Linked DNA regions of Homo sapiens: region 1 is linked to region 2. The links come from fine-mapping of genetic effects on gene expression. A gene starts in region 2. The other region holds a variant in brackets. All regions are shown on one strand. Distances are between the middles of the regions.

Evidence for each region.
Region 1: its variant is fine-mapped to the expression of MAN2B1 in blood mononuclear cells (TOPMed, PIP 0.95).

What each region holds. Positions count from the first base shown.
Region 1 is chr19:12,628,437-12,636,763 of GRCh38, reverse strand. It overlaps ZNF791 (zinc finger protein 791), which reads right to left. Exons shown (of 4, transcript NM_153358.3): 4 at 2,930-8,327. The coding sequence ends at 7,504. It overlaps LOC105372279 (a long non-coding RNA gene), which reads left to right. Exons shown (of 4, transcript XR_007067142.1): 4 at 2,276-3,625. Among named protein-coding and RNA genes, the nearest start is that of ZNF791, 22 kb to the right of the region's middle. The variant C/T (reference allele first, on the strand shown) is at 3,446.
Region 2 is chr19:12,663,105-12,671,431 of GRCh38, reverse strand. It overlaps MAN2B1 (mannosidase alpha class 2B member 1), which reads left to right and starts at 4,690. Exons shown (of 24, transcript NM_000528.4): 1 at 4,690-4,889; 2 at 5,627-5,729; 3 at 5,907-6,080; 4 at 6,447-6,640; 5 at 7,597-7,729; 6 at 7,970-8,115. The coding sequence starts at 4,731. WDR83 (WD repeat domain 83) reads right to left here and starts at 4,625. Exons shown (of 11, transcript NM_001099737.3): 1 at 4,440-4,625; 2 at 2,805-2,924; 3 at 1,539-1,677; 4 at 1,335-1,455; 5 at 1,147-1,252; 6 at 821-869; 7 at 611-737. The coding sequence starts at 1,641. WDR83OS (WD repeat domain 83 opposite strand) reads left to right here and starts at 2,017. Exons shown (of 4, transcript NM_016145.4): 1 at 2,017-2,078; 2 at 2,199-2,304; 3 at 2,815-2,912; 4 at 3,007-3,359. The coding sequence starts at 2,029. The coding sequence ends at 3,073. RefSeq lists enhancers at 396-1,069, 1,229-1,318, 1,459-1,548, 5,078-5,207, 5,228-5,357 and 5 more and a silencer at 4,548-4,827.

The DNA of each region.
Region 1 (8,327 bases), 35 kb after region 2:
GGGGCCGCACAGGGGCAAGAGGTGATAAAGTGGGGAAGAGGAGACAAAGTGGGGAAAGAGGGGAAAAAGGGGGATGAAGGCTGGAGGGGGCCAGGATGGGGCGGGGCAGGGTAGGTCTTGGGGAGGGGAGGGCAAAGGGTAGGGATGGCCTTGATGGGACAAGGAGTTTATGATTAAAATGCCCTGGTGGCTTTATTCCCCTGTGCGCCTTCCAAAAATATTTCTTCTTATCTCTCATTTTGTTTTTACTTTTAAGAGACAAGGTTGGCCGGGCGCGGTGGCTCACGTCTGTAATCCCAGCACTTTGGGAGGCTGAGGCAGGTGGATCACCTGAGGTCAGGAATTTGAGACCAGCCTGGCCAACATGGTGAAATCCCGTCTCTACTAAAAATATAAAAATTAGCCGGGCGCGGTGGCGGGCGCCTGTAATCCCAGCCACTCGGGAGGCTGAGGCAGGAGAATCGCTTGAACCCGGGGGGCGGAGGTTGCAGTGAGCCGGTATCGCACCACTGCACTTCAGCCTGGGCGACAGAGTGAGACTCCGTCTCAAAAAAAAAAAAAAAAAAAAAAAAAGGAAAGAAAGAAAGAAAATACATTACAGGGTTCCACCAGGCAGCACACCCAGAGAGGAGCTAACTGCAAGGAGACAAAGGCTTGGTGGGGATTTTAGAGAATGGTGCTTTGGCCGGGTGCAGTGGCTCACGCCTGTAATCTCAGCACTTTGGGAGGCCGAGGCGGGCGGATCACGAGGTCAGGAGATCGGGACCATCCTGACTAACACGGTGAAACCCCATCTCTACTAAAAATATAAAAACAAAATTAGCCAGGCATGGTGGCGGGTGCCTATAGTCCCAGCTACTCAGGAGGCTGAGGTGGGAGAATGGCGTGAACCCAGGAGGCGGAGCTTGCAGTGAGCCAATATCGCGCCACTGCACTCCAGCCTGGGTGGCAGAGCAAGACTCCTTCTCAAAAAAAAAAAAAAAAAAAAAAAGGACTCATAAGTTCTGCCCTAGATCAAAGCAACCTTAATGTGGTACAAATTATAGGCTATGACACACATAGCATTCTTGCCTGTTTTGGAAGGTGGCTGACATGAACTGTGTCACCCAGGTCTGAGTGCAGTGGCATGATCATGGCTCACTGCAGGCTCGAACTCTTGGGCTCAAGCCATCCTCCCACCTCAGCCTCTGGAGTAGCTGGAATCACAGGTGTGCCCCACCACACCCAGCTAATTTTTTACTTTTGTAGAGATGGGGTCTCAGTTCTTTTTTTTTTTCCTTTTTTCTCCTTCCCTTCCTTCCTTCCTTCTCTCATATCTCTGCTTTTCTTTCTTTTGCTTTCTTTCTCTTTCCTTTCTTTTTCTTTCTTTCTCTCTTTTTCTTTTCTTTCTCTCTCTGTCTTTTCTTTTTTCAACACGACTGAGCCTCACTGTCGCCCAGGTTGCTGTGCAGTGGTGTAATCACAGCTCACTGCCACGTGGAACTCCTGGGCACAAACCATCCTCCCACCTCAGCCTCCTAAAGTGTTGAGATGACAGGCATGAGGCACCCAGTACGGCCTCATTCAAATTTTCTAAGTCCGCTTATGGAAGCATGCACCTGCAGTCCCAACTACTTGGGAGGCTGAGGCAGGAGGATCACTCCCCAGAAGTCAAGGTGACAGTGAACTATGATCGCACCGCTGCAATCTAGCCTGGGTGATAGAGCAAGACCTCATCTCAAAAAAAAAAAAAAAGTTTGACAGGTGGTGGAACACACTAGAACTTCAAAACTTTGAGACTCTATAATTCTGATTTACATGAGTTTGGGAAAGACCCTGTGCTCTCTCTGCCTCTGTTTTTTCATGTGTAAGATGGGAGGAATCCCAGCACTTTGGGAGGCTGAGGTGGGTGGATCACCTGAGGCTAGGAGTTCCAGACCAGCCTGACCAACATGGTGAAACCCTATCTCTACCAAAAATACAAAAATTAGCTGGGCATGTTGGCACATGCCTGTAATCCCAGCTACTCGGGAGGCTGAGGCAGGAGAATTGCTTGAGCCTCGGAGGCAGAGGTTTCAGTGAGCTGAGATCGCGCCATTGCACTCCAGCCTAGGCGACAGAGTGAGACTCTGTCTCAAATAAATAAATAAATAAATAAGTCTATGAAACATTTATTTCTGGAATTTTCCACTAAGTATTTTTGGACTGTGTTTGACCATGAGTGACTAAAACCACAGAAAGCAAAACTTTGGATCAGAATTGACTACTGTATTACCATAATTAATTCTGAATACAGGTGTGACCGTGGTGATTGCTGGCAATAGGGCACTGAAAATACCACTGTTTTGAAGAGAATTTTGTTTTATGACAAAATGTAAGTATAAGAATAAAAAACATCTAAGGGAAAAATACCAGAACATTTATGCACATGCTAATATTGAGTCAGAATGTATCTTGACAAAATGACAAAGTTGATCTGAATATTCATAACTGTAATGGGATATTTTAATATAGCCTTTCAGGAAACGGGGAAGACAATTATTTGTTTTTGAACTAATAGAGATGGGGTCTTACTATGTTGCCCAGGCTGGTCTCCAACTTCAGGCCTCAAGCAATCCTGCCTCAGCCTCCCAAATTGTTGGGATTACAGCCATGAGCCACTGCACCCAGATGATGATAATATTTGATAGTATACATGTTGTTTGGAAACAGTTAACAAAATATTTCTAAGAAACATCTAAGAAGCTTTTGCTTCAAATAAATAAAAAATGCATTATTTTAGTTGCATACAACCAAACATAAATGAAAATAAACCGATGGAGAATATTCAGGAATAGTTGGAAACACCCACAATTTGTCTGATATGAGGAAGGTGATTATTCTCAAATGGAAGGATGGGGGAGAGTAGTCACTGTATAATGCAGTAAGAGAACAAACTCCCATATAGTTGTTTTTTTTTTTTTTTACTGTTTTACTGTAGCTGTCATGGTGGAATCAGGAATACATAGTCCCTAGTGGCATTAACAGAACAAGAACCATACAAATTAAAGCTCATAGAAACACAAAGGGAAGACAGAACCTCAGAGAACAATGCCAACCATGACAGTCTGAAATAGATGCTTGGGCCACACATGAAGGCTAGAAGGAAAATCCAAACTGTACGTGGATCTTTGATGCGGAGCTTGTGGAGACAACTGTGGAAACCAACACATCTCTTTGAGAATGGAAGTCAAGCAGCTCAGGGTGTTTTCAGGATACTTTTGATTGGCAGAGAAAATAACCAGGAAAATGAGCAGGAAGCAGGCTGTCTCCCTGTATGGTGGGGTTCCAATACCTGACTAATGTCTTCTTCACTTCTGCCTGGCAAATCTCATGCAAGTGAGGCTATAAGTGAATTTCAACATGGATCTATAAAGGGAACAGATTCTAGGAAATTTACCTGTGTCGACAGGTAGCAGGAGGGCCA[C/T]GTCCAGCTCTAGATTTTATTGTCCTATCACAGGTGTCCTTCCTGAATTCAAACTCTACTATTCAAATCCCAGACAGAATTATAAAAAAAAGGCGAAAATAATAATTCGCATAAGAATATATGATAAACTTCACATACTTACCAACTTATGCCAGATGTTTAATAAAAAGGAAAATGGAATAAGGCTCTTCTAGCTGAAATTCATTTTATTTATTTATTTATTTGAGATGGAGTCTCGTTCTGCTGCCCAGGCTGGATTGCAGTGGCACGATCTCGGCTCACTGCAAGCTCCGCCTCCCGGGTTCACACCATTCTCCTGCCTCAGACTCCTGAGTAGCTGGGACTACAGACGCCCGCCACCATGCCCAGCTAATTTTTTGTATTTATAGTAGAGACGGGGTTTCACTGTATTAGCCAGGATGGTCTCAATCTCCTGACTTCGTGATCCGCCCACCTCGGCCTCCCAAAGTGCTGGGATTACAGGTGTGAGCCACTGCGCCCGGCAAGAAATTTATTATATTTTAATTTAATTTTTTTGATATGGAGTCTCGTTCTGTTGTCCAGGCTGGAGTGCAGTGGTGTGATCTTGGCTCACTGCAACCTCTGACTTCCAGGTTCAAGCATTTCTCCTGCCTCAGCCTCCCAAGTAGCTGAGATTACAGGTGCCCTCCAACATGCCCAGCTAATTTTTGTATTTTTAGTAGAGATGGGATTTCACCATGTTGGCCAGGTTGGTCTCGAACTCCTGACCTCAAGTGATCTGCTTGCCTTGGTTTCCCAAAGTGCTGGAATTACAAAGGAGTGAGCCACCGTGTCTGGCCAAGAAATTTAAAAAGCAGTTTTTCGGAAAAGGTGAAATAAATATATAATGGGTAATATATGCACCACCTTCCACATGAGGCCAGTAGGAAAAATCCTAGTTACAGTGTGTCAGTATTCAACAATCTCTTTATTCAGAGAACAACTGAAAAACTATACACAAATTAAAACTAATTGTATATTAAAAATACACTTCTACTAACACTGGTCTTTAAAAGAAAAAAAAAATACACTTCAGGCCGGGTGCGGTGGCTCAAGCTTGTAATCCCAGCACTTTGGGAGGCTGAGGCGGTCGAATCACGAGGTCAGGAGATTGAGACCATCCTGGCTTAACACGGTGAAACCCCATCTCTACTAAAAATACAAAAAAAATTAGCTGGGCATGGTGGCGGGCGCCTGCAGTCCCAGCTACTGGGGAGGCTGAGGCAGGAGAATGGCGTGGACCCGGGAGGCGGAGCTTGCAGTGAGCCGAGATCACACCGCTGAACTCCAGCCTGGGCAACAGAGCAAGACTCCGTCTCGAAAAAAAAAAAATACACTTCAGTTTACTCATGAATCAAGACATCAAGAGAAAGAGAAAAGTTTTACTAACTGATTTAATGAGAAAACACAACCTTTTAAACTTTTGACCACTGCTTAAAGAGTACTTACAGAATTATCTCACTTCCAAGACTTCTTGGAAAAGTAGTTAAGTTACAATTCATAGTCCAGAGATGTACTTGAAGAATGAGCCAGTGATAAAAAATTTTTAACTTTTTTTTGGTGTGTGGGATGGAGTCTTGCTCTGTTGCCCAGGCTGGAGTGTAGTGGCACAATCTCAGCTCACTGCAGCCTCCACCTCCCAGGTTCAAATGATTCTCCTGCTTCAGCCTCCCAAGTAGCTGGAATTACAGGTGCATGCCACCACGCTCAGGTAATTTTTGTATTTTTAGTAGAGATGGGGTTTCACCGTCTTGGCCAGGCTGGTCTCGAACTCCTGACCTCAGGTGATCTGCCTGCCTTGGCCTCCCAAAGTGCTGGGATTACAGGCATGAGCCACCATGCCTTGCCTTAACTTTTATATCGTGTGTGATGAATTTATATCATGGTGTGAATTTTCTGGAGCATTTTACAGGCAGAGATTGCTTAATCATGGGTATATGTTCTGAGAAACGTGTTGTAGGTGATTTCCTCATGGTACAAACATCACAAAGTGAACTTACACAAATCTAGATGGTATAGCTACAACACATCTAGACTATATGGTACAGTCTATTGCTACTAGGCTATAAACCATACAACATGTTGTTGTACTGAACACTGTAGGAAATTGTAACAAAATGTTAAGTATTTATGAGTCTAAACACAGAAAATACACAGAGTAAACATGCAGTATAAAAGATAAAAAAGGATGCACCTGCATAGGACACTCCATGAACATAGCTTGCAGGACTAGAAGTTGCTCTGGGTGAGTCAGTTGAGTGGTGAGTGAATGCGAAGGCCCAGGATGTTACTGTACACTAATGGAGAATTTATAAACACTGTACACTTGGACTACACTACATTCATAAAAACATTTTTTCCTCAATAATGAATAAACCTTAACTTACTGTACATTATTTTCTTTATAAACTTATTTTTAAAAACTTTGTAATAATTTAGCTTAAAACACATTGTACAGCTGTACAAAAATATTTTATGTCCATATTCTATAAGCTTTTTCTATTAAATTTTTTTAAACTATTTTTGTTAAAGACTAACTAAGACACAAACACACATTAGTGTAGGACTACACGGGGTGAGGATCATCAATATCATTGTCTTCTGCCTCCATGTTTTGTCCCGCCAGAATACGTTCAGGGGCAGTCCTGCACATGGAGCCGTCATCGCCTATCATAACAAAGTTTTTCCGGGAATATCTCCTTAAGGACCTGCCTGAGACTGTCTTACTGTTAAAAAAACACAGGAATACATTCTAAAACAGGATTGTAAATATATAAACCAGTAACTTAGCCATTTATTATCAAGTATATATTGCACATCTGTGCTGTAATTTTTTTTTTTTCGAGACGGAGTCTCGCTCTGTCACCCAGGCTGGAGTGTAGTGGTAGATCTCAGCTCACTGCAATCTCCACCTCCCGGGTTCAAGCGATTCTCCTGCTTTGGCCTCCCAAGTAGCTGGGACTACAGGCACACCAGAACGCCCAGCTAATTTTCGTATTTCTAATGGAGACAGGGTTTCATCATGTTGACCAGGCTGGTCTTGAACTCCTGACCTCAACTGATTCTCCCACCTCAGCCTCCCAAAGTGCTGGGATTACAGGTATGAGCCACTGTGCCCAGCCAATTTTTTTTTTTTTTTTTTGATACAGTCTCACTGTCACCCATGCTGGACTGCCATCACGTGATCTTGGTTCACTGTAGCCTTGAACTCCTGGGCTCAGGCAATCCTCCTGCCTCAGCCTCCCATGTAGATGGGACTACAGGGTGTGCTACCACACTTAGAAAATGTTTTTATTTTTTGTAGAGACAGGGTCTCACTAGGTTGACCAGAGTAGTCCTGGCATCAAGCAATCCTACTGCCTTAGTCTCCCAGTGTTGGGATCACAGGTGTGACCATGCCCAGCTGTGTTGTACTTTTTTTTTTTTTTTTTTTTTGAGACAGAGTCTCGCTCTGTTGGCCGGATCTCAGCTCACTGTCAGCTCGGCCTCCTGGGTTTATGCCATTCTCCTGCCTCAGCCTCCCAAGTAGCTGGGACTACAGGCGCCCACCACCACGCCCGGCTAATTGTTTGTATTTTTAGTAGAGATGGGGTTTTACCGTGTTAGCCAGGATGGTCTTGATCTCCTGGCCTCGTGATCCGCCCGCCTTGGCCTCCCAAAGTGCTGGGATTACAGGCGTGAGCCACCGTCCCCGGCCGCTGTCTTGTACTTTTATACAACTGAAAGTGCAGCACGTTTACACCAGCACCATAAACACTTAAATAATGTGCTGCACTATGGTGTTACTACTGCTACTAAATTGCGGTTGATAGAAATGTTTTAGGTGTTATATAATCTTATGGGGCTACCAACCTATATGGTCCATTGCTGACTGAAACATGATTATGTGGTACCTGACTATACATGAATCATCTTGTATCTCGCTTTCTATATTACTTACATTGACAGGATTTCTCTCTTCAGTGGGAATTTTCACAACTTTGAAAGCATCTGTTAGAATTGAAAACTTTCTCCTATTTCTCACATTTATAGAGTTTCTATCGATTGTGCATTCTCATATGTTTTTTTAAGGATGTGGACACACTGAAGGCTTTTCCACATTGCTTACATTCAAGAGGTTTCTCATAATTGTGAATTCTTGTATGTCTTTGAAAGGAACTGTGAAGACTAAAGGCCTTCCCACATTCTTTACATTTATAGGGTTTCTCTCCAGTATGCATTCTCATGTGTCCTTGAAAGCTTGTGGGATAAATAAAGGCCTTCCCGCATTCCTTACATTCATAAGGTTTCTCCCCAGTGTGAGTTCTTTTATGTATCCGAATGTAACTAGAACAACTAAAGGCTTTTCCACATTGTTTACATTCATAGGGTTTCTCTCCAGTGTGAGTTCTTTCATGTGTTCGTAACGCACTAGGAAAAATGAACACCTTCCCACAGTCCCTACATTTATAAGGTCCGTCTCCAGTGTGGGTGATCATGTGTCTTCGAAAGTTCTCAAGAGAAATGAAGGTTTTTGCACATTCCTTACACTCATAGGGTTTTTCTCCAGTGTGATTTCTCTTGTGGATTTTCAAATCTAGAGGATAATTGAAAGTTTTCCCACATTTTTTACATTCGTAGGGTTTCTCTCCAGTGTGAGTCCTTTCATGTATTCGAAAGTAACTGATTCTACTAAAGGCTTTCCCACATTCTTTACACTTATAGGGTTTCTCTCCAGTATGCACTCTCACGTGTACTCGAAAGGCTGGGCGTGCACTGAAAGATTTCCCACATTCTTTACATTTATAGGGCTTCTCTCCAGTATGAATTCTTTCATGAATTTGAATGGAGGTGGAACATCTGAAGGCTTTACCACATTGTT
Region 2 (8,327 bases):
ATCCGCCTGCCTCTGCCTCCCAAAGTGCTGGGATTACAGGCATGAGCCACAGCGCCCGGCCTATTTTTATTTATTTTTAGAAATCATTTTATCTTTTTTTTTTTGAGATGGAGTCTCACTTTGTCGCCCAGGCTGGAGTGCAGTGGCACAATCTCGGCTCACTGCAACCTCCAACTCCCGGGTTCAGGCGATTCTCCTGCCTCCGCCTCCCGAGTGGCTGGGATTACAGGCTCCCGTCACCACACCTGGCTAATTTTTGCATTTTTAGTAGAGACGGGGTTTCACCATGTTGGCCAGGCTGATCTCAACCTCCTGACCTCAAGTGATCTGCCCACCTTGGCCTCCCAAAGTGCTGGGATTACAGGTGTGAGCCACCGTGCCCGGCCAGATTATTATTATTTTGTAGACAGTCTGTCTTTCACCCAGCATGGAGTGCAATGGTGCCTCGAACTCTTGGACTCAAGTGATCCTTCCACTTCAGCCTCCCAAGTAGCTGGGATTACAGCTGTGTGCCACTGTGCCCAGCTGAGAGTAGGTTTTAATCTGAGCATGGGGGCAGCTATGATTCCCCGTAGCACCTGGGGTGAGACCAGGTCCTGGCTCCACTCACCCTGCCAGGATCTCGTGGTCTGACACCTTCACACTGGACACGCCATCTCTGGCCTCATCCAGCGTCTGCACTGGCTCAGGCCTCCGTGAGCGGCAATCCCAACAGCGGATACTGGAATCAATAGAGCCTGTGAGGCCAGCATGATGGTGAGGTCAGGTTTGGAGGGGGAGGGCAGCACCCTGGGCCCCCGTGCTTAGGCCCCAGACTCACCGGACAGGATAACTGTGGCCTCTTCATTAAACTGCACCGTGTTCACCTTCTGAGAAAGTTATTGCCACTCAGAGGAGGCTGGACTTTGGAGGACTGGGATAAAGGCAGGGTTCCCAGTGTCGGTTAAAGCAAGGGCGAAGGGGAGGTGAAAGGTTTTGGGGGAACAGCAAGGACAGGGGTTGGTGACTGCCTAGCCTGGCATGCGGAGTGGGGGATCGTCATCTGGGGAAGGGATCCTTACGGTGTAATGGGGGTGGCCGTGTCACCACCTATGCGCTAATACGGGTCCCCTCCACTCAAATGAGGGTCTCCAGGCTTTCACTCACCCCTGCGTGGCCCCGGAATTTGCGCACGACCTGCCCTGATGCCACATCCCACAGAACCACCGCCTTGTCCCCGCCGCCGGAGCAGAGACTACTGTTGTCAAAGGAGCTGGAGTAAAGGAGGAGGAGGATCAGCATCGACCTCGGATCCCAGCCTCAGCGCTCCCATCCCAGCCTGGTCCCCGGCTCACCCGGCCGCATCCAGCACCTCGTAGCCGTGGCCGCTGTACGTCCGCAGCAGCGTCCCCCGAAGCGGGTTCCACAGCTTCAGCGTCTTGTCACTGCCGCACGTCAGGCAGTAATTGCCATCCACTGGGGAACACCAGGCGGGGGTTACTGGGCCGTCGATCTCAGGAGGCGGGAGGAGGACCCGGAATGAAGACGAAGGCGCTCACCATTAAATCGTACGGCTCGCACTGCCCCCTGCCCGCAGTCCAGCGTCTTCAACCGTTTCTGCGGCAGCTCTGGAGGCCGCGGCTTTGGCTCAGGGAAAGCCATGCTCCCAGGACTCCTTCCTTGCAGCCTTAAATCGGTCTGTACGGAAAATTCCGCGCCTTAGAAACCCACGCTTGGGTGTAACCTTATTATTGTTCTTCCTGACCTACTTCCTGTTTATCACTTCCGGGTTCATCATTTTGGCATTTCGGTGATCGGGTTGGAACTATTGAAGCCCGCTTTCAGGTTCTTTTCCCCATTTTCCCTTTGAAAGGAAGACTTCTGGCTTCTCCTAAATCTCCGTTCTCTGGGTAAGGGGAGTCCAAGCCTCTGTCATGAGGAACGGAAATGCGAGGGCCTCGGGTGTTACTCTAAAATCCGCCCTCAGCTTGCACGCCGGAAGCTGCGATTCCTGCAGCGGAAGAGGCGTGATCTGGCCTTCGACTCGCTATGTCCACTAACAATATGTCGGACCCACGGAGGCCGAACAAAGTGCTGAGGTGAGGACCCCAGCGTCGTGGGCACGGGTTCGGGTTGTGGGTGTGGATCGGGGCCCTGGGAAGCGCCTGTCTATCCCGGGGGCAGGACCTGAGCGCCCCTGACCCTCGAGCCTGTCGCAGGTACAAGCCCCCGCCGAGCGAATGTAACCCGGCCTTGGACGACCCGACGCCGGACTACATGAACCTGCTGGGCATGATCTTCAGCATGTGCGGCCTCATGCTTAAGGTGGGCGGGGTTGAGCTTCTATGGGTGTAGTTGGACCTGAGAACGAGGCCCGGGGGCGGGTTTGGAATGAAGCGGGGTGTCTTGTCATTGCTGATGGGGCGGGACCTGAGATCGGCCGGGAGTGGGGCTGCGATGACGCTGGGCCGAGAAAGCCCCAGTCTTTGGTGAAGTCAAGGATTCGAGTCAGGTTGGGGATGTGGCAGATTGGTCTGCGAGTGGGGCCAGGCTTTGAAGCAACTTGGAGAGGAGTTGTGGAAAAAGGGCAGGGTCTTAAGCATGTGGGATGTCAGAGTCTCTCTTGGTCCTGAGAGACGCAGGCCAGACAGTAGGACTAGAAACCACGTATCTAGAGTATGCCATGAGCAGGTGGGACTGAGGAATTCCGGGTGGGGCAAGGTCCCAGCTGCATCAGATGGAATCAGTGGGCATGATCTGGTGTCTGGAAAGGTGGCTTCGGGGACTCATTGTTGTGCCTTTCACTAACCTGCCCACCCACTTACCTTTCCCTAGCTGAAGTGGTGTGCTTGGGTCGCTGTCTACTGCTCCTTCATCAGCTTTGCCAACTCTCGGAGCTCGGAGGACACGAAGCAAATGATGAGTAGCTTCATGTGAGACTTGCCCTACAGAACAAGTGACTCTTGAGTAAGGGGTGGGGGGACCCCAGCCTGGCCATCCTAGACTGACACCTCTCTCCTGTCTCAGGCTGTCCATCTCTGCCGTGGTGATGTCCTATCTGCAGAATCCTCAGCCCATGACGCCCCCATGGTGATACCAGCCTAGAAGGGTCACATTTTGGACCCTGTCTATCCACTAGGCCTGGGCTTTGGCTGCTAAACCTGCTGCCTTCAGCTGCCATCCTGGACTTCCCTGAATGAGGCCGTCTCGGTGCCCCCAGCTGGATAGAGGGAACCTGGCCCTTTCCTAGGGAACACCCTAGGCTTACCCCTCCTGCCTCCCTTCCCCTGCCTGCTGCTGGGGGAGATGCTGTCCATGTTTCTAGGGGTATTCATTTGCTTTCTCGTTGAAACCTGTTGTTAATAAAGTTTTTCACTCTGGCTGTCAGCCTCTTCTGTTCAGTGGGGTGTTCCTCCTACCTGGCGGGAAGGGCTCTAGCCCCATAGGCCTGGTGTGGGGCCCCAGTCTGGAGGCTTCTGGCTGTTCATTTGCTTACTTCATAAACCTTGTGTCTTAAGTCAGGTGCTAGGGACAAGACAGTGACTTCTGCCCTCTGGCAACTCACCAGATGGCCCTGCTGACCTAGATAATCTAGGCTTTGGTTTCCTTTTTTTTTTTTCCTTTTTAAGAAAGAAAATGGTCTTGATCTGTCATGCAGGCTGAGTGCAGTGGCACAATCTATGTTCACTGCAGCCTCAAACTCCTGGGCTCAAGCAATCCTCCCACCTCAGCCTGCCACGTAACTGGGACCACAAATGCGTGCTACCATGCCCAGTTAATTCTTGTTTTTTTTGAGACAGAGTTTTGCTCTTGTTGCCCAGGCTGGAGGGCAATGGCATGATCTTGATCTCGGCTCACTGCAACCTCCGCCTCCCAGGTTCAAGTGATTCTCCTGCCTCAGTCTCCCAAGTAGCTGGGATTACAGGCATGTGCCACCATGCCCAGCTAATTTTTGTATTTTTACATTTTGTGTAAAATTACAAATTTTGTGTTTTCAAACCCGTCTCTACAAAACAACCCATGTTGCCCAGGCTGGTCTCAAACTCCCAGGCCCAAGTGATTCACCAGCCTGGCCCTCCCAAAGTGCTGGGATTGCAGGCTTGAGCCACTGCGCCTGCCCTGGGCTTTGTTTTCTTATCAGAGAATGAACTGGTAGGAATTGGGAAAGGCATGAAAGACTCGGGGTCCTTCCCCACTTGTCAGACCCTCTTTTCTCTCCGGAACACCCAGGGATCCTTCTCAACCAGGCTGGATCCCATCCCTGGTACTCCAGGGGTATTTACCCAACGTCCCAATCCCCACAGTATAGGACTCTTCATCAGATCCTCCTCTTAGGCAAGCTAGGTCCTTCCAGGACCCTAGCGCTGAAGGTCCATGGGACGGACACCCTGGATTCCCATGGACACACTACACCGGCTAGGAAAACCCGGCCCCCTTAGGAAAAGCACTTCTGCTCCTACCGGCATTAAGAGGCATTCCGTCTTGGAATTCCGGCATTAAGAGGCATTCCGTCTTCATAGCCCGTGAGACGCCAGTGTCACCTTTAGCCCAACCAGTGCCCTGAGGGTGGCATTTTCCTACCTTCCTGTAACGACCCCCGGGATTGCCCAGGGCTACAGCCTCTCTCCCGTGAGCCTCCAGACCGCGCCCTGGCCCCGCCCCCCACCCCGATTGGCCCGGCCGGGTCTGGGGGCGGGGCGTTTGCCCGGCCTTTCCAGGGCCGGGGAACCCCAGGAGGAAGCTGCTGAGCCATGGGCGCCTACGCGCGGGCTTCGGGGGTCTGCGCTCGCGGCTGCCTGGACTCAGCAGGCCCCTGGACCATGTCCCGCGCCCTGCGGCCACCGCTCCCGCCTCTCTGCTTTTTCCTTTTGTTGCTGGCGGCTGCCGGTGCTCGGGCCGGGGGATACGAGGTGAGTGGGGCCTCCGAGCTGAAACGTACAGGAGGCAGAGTGAAACCCAGAATACAGTCTAGAGGTGTGGGTGGGTCTGTCCTGTGGGTGTCTAGTGAATGGCTGATGATATGACAGTGTGGTCTGAGTGCGTGCTTTGTGTCATTGCGAGGTCTGGCTGTGCGCATCTGAGTATAGGACTGTGTCTGATTGTACCTGCCTCCGTGTCTCCGGGATGCTTGCCTAGACTTTGTCTGCACTTAACTGTGGGATTGGAGGGGCAGGAGGTGGCAGGGGGTGAGCAGTGTATGTGTGGGGGGAGGTGCTGGCTGAGAGCTGGGACTCTGGAGTCTGCCTGAAATTCCAGCCTAGCTCTTACACTTCCTGAGTGTGTGACGTTGGGCAAGTCACCTATCCTCTCTAAGCCTCAGTGCCTTCATCTGGAAACTGGGGATAACATCACCCCACCTCCCACGGTGGCCGTCTGCTGTCGGCAAATGCTGAACAAACATCAGCTACTTCTATTATTATTTTCCCGGAGTGTGAATGAGAGCTGCCCTGTGGGGTTGTGCAAAGTGGAGTTGTATCTATGAGCACAACTATGTATGTGTGTGTCCTGCCTGGGAGGGCCTGGCCTCCTCTGCACATAGGCGAGATCAGGCCTCTCTGAGTCACTCACCTCTAGATCAAGACTTACTCTGCAGCCCCCGACCTCGGGGGTTATTGACAAGGTATGTGTGTTTGGGGTCCCTGTGCAGACATGCCCCACAGTGCAGCCGAACATGCTGAACGTGCACCTGCTGCCTCACACACATGATGACGTGGGCTGGCTCAAAACCGTGGACCAGTACTTTTATGGAAGTGAGTAGAGGATGGGGACTGGTCCCTGGGATCCCCATGGTCCCTGTAATCCCTCTGGGTCCTGGACATTAGGGTGGGGCCAGTGCTACCCTAATATCCAGGGTTTGGGCTCCTCTGTCTAGGAATAACCCCCTTGGCTCTGCTGTTCCCTGAGAGCCTTATCCCTGTTATCCACAGTCAAGAATGACATCCAGCACGCCGGTGTGCAGTACATCCTGGACTCGGTCATCTCTGCCTTGCTGGCAGATCCCACCCGTCGCTTCATTTACGTGGAGATTGCCTTCTTCTCCCGTTGGTGGCACCAGCAGACAAATGCCACACAGGAAGTCGTGCGAGACCTTGTGCGCCAGGGTGAGCCTACCCCAAGGAAGTGAAAAGAGGAAGCCCAGCCCAGCTTCTGCTTCTGCATCTCTGGTTTCTGAGATTTGTCATGCCACGTGCAAGCTGTATAACATGCGTGTCGCTCCGCCTGCCTGGACTCTCCATTTGGAGACCTCCTATACATCCCACAAAGCCCCACCTGCTGTGCATCCTCTGGGAAGCCTGCCATGCAGGGGGCCTCTTTCCCATATCTGGGAACTATGGCCTGGGAGCGACCCCTCTTGTCCTTCCGCCAGAAATGTGTACACAGGCAGGCTTTCACATTCCCAGTATCACCCACCCTACTCCCACTCCTGGCTCTGACCGCTGACCCTGACCTTGCCTGTCCTGGCACAGGGCGCCTGGAGTTCGCCAATGGTGGCTGGGTGATGAACGATGAGGCAGCCACCCACTACGGTGCCATCGTGGACCAGATGACACTTGGGCTGCGCTTTCTGGAGGACACATTTGGCAATGATGGGCGACCCCGTGTGGCCTGGCACATTGACCCCTTCGGCCACTCTCGGGAGCAGGCCTCGCTGTTTGCGCAGGTGCGACCCGGGACCTCTCTTGGGCCCACTTCTTCACTCACTCTGGCTCCTCCCTCGCCCAGTCAAACCCCGCCCTCTCCCTGCAATCTCACAAGGACCAGGCCCAGGCCTAGGCCTGTTGAAGCCCTGCCCCTTGAGTGAGCCGTAAAGCCAGTGGCTTTTGAGCTCTGGCCTCAGCCGGCTATGCCCAGCCCAGGCTGACCCAGCTCCGGCTGGCTCCGCCCTCTCCCCTAATAGGCCCCTCTTGGTGTTCTGGCCCCACCCACTAGCTCGGGTCCTGGCTCCTCCCTAAACCGGGTGGCAAGTGGATGCCTAGGCTGCCTTAAAAACAGGTTCATTACCTGTGCTCAGACCCCATCCATCCTCAGGCTGTGGAAGGGGGAACCTCATTCCTGGAGTCAGGCCTGCTCTGCGCTTTGACAGTGCTGGGGAGGTGAACCTGGGTTCTGATGTTGGACCCGCCCTCTCCCTGCTAGCCCAAGGTGGTGAGTTCTGAAACTTCCCCAAGCTTGGAAATAAGCTGGAGGCCTCTCTGTTTCAGCCCTACGTGTTTTTGTTTTTGTTTTTTGAGACAGGGTCTTGCTGTCATCCAGGCTGGAGTGCAGTGGTGCAATCCTAACTCACTATAGCCTCAATCTCCCGGATTCAAGCGATTCTCCTGTCTCAGCCCCCCTAGTAGATGAGACTACAAGAGCGCACCACTACGCCTGGCTAATTTTTAAATTTTTTGTAGACAGTCTGCCCGTGTTGTGCAGGCTGGTCTCAAAAACTCCTGGGTTTAAGTGATCCTCCTGTTTTGGCCTCCCAGAAGGCTGGGATCATAGGCAAGAGCCACCACATCGACCTAGCACTGCTTTTTAACCTGTGCTCTGACCTGCCCCTCCCAAGCAGAGGGGAGTTTGGTGGTGAGAGGGCTGGGCACTAATTCACACTGCCTTTTCCTCCCTCATCCCCAGATGGGCTTCGACGGCTTCTTCTTTGGGCGCCTTGATTATCAAGATAAGTGGGTACGGATGCAGAAGCTGGAGATGGAGCAGGTGTGGCGGGCCAGCACCAGCCTGAAGCCCCCGACCGCGGACCTCTTCACTGGTAGGGGGCTTGGTGAGGGCAGGGCCAGCCATGGTGCCACACACTCAGAAGGGCCCTGGGCTTGATATCTGCTCTGTTGTCACTGTCCTGGAATTCCTATAGTCTGGGAACAAAGGCCCTGCATTTCCTTTTGCATTGGGACACAAATTCTGAAGCCCATCCTGGGTGGGACATGGCCGGCTTTGAAACCAGGGAAGGTCTGGGTGATGGGCCACCCCTTGAACTTGGTGTGACCTGCAGGTGTGCTTCCCAATGGTTACAACCCGCCAAGGAATCTGTGCTGGGATGTGCTGTGTGTCGATCAGCCGCTGGTGGAGGACCCTCGCAGCCCCGAGTACAACGCCAAGGAGCTGGTCGATTACTTCCTAAATGTGGCCACTGCCCAGGTAACCCTGGTGTCCAGAACCTTCGAGTCCGGTATATACAATACAATGAGCTCTTTCCATGGTACAGGCATCCCCTAACACGTTCTCCTTATTTTTAATTTTTTTGAGACAGTCTTACTCTGTCACCCAGGCTGGAGTGCAGTGGTGCGATCTCGGCTCACTGCAACCTCTGCCTCCTGGGTTCAAACAAGCACATCCAGCTAATTTTTGTA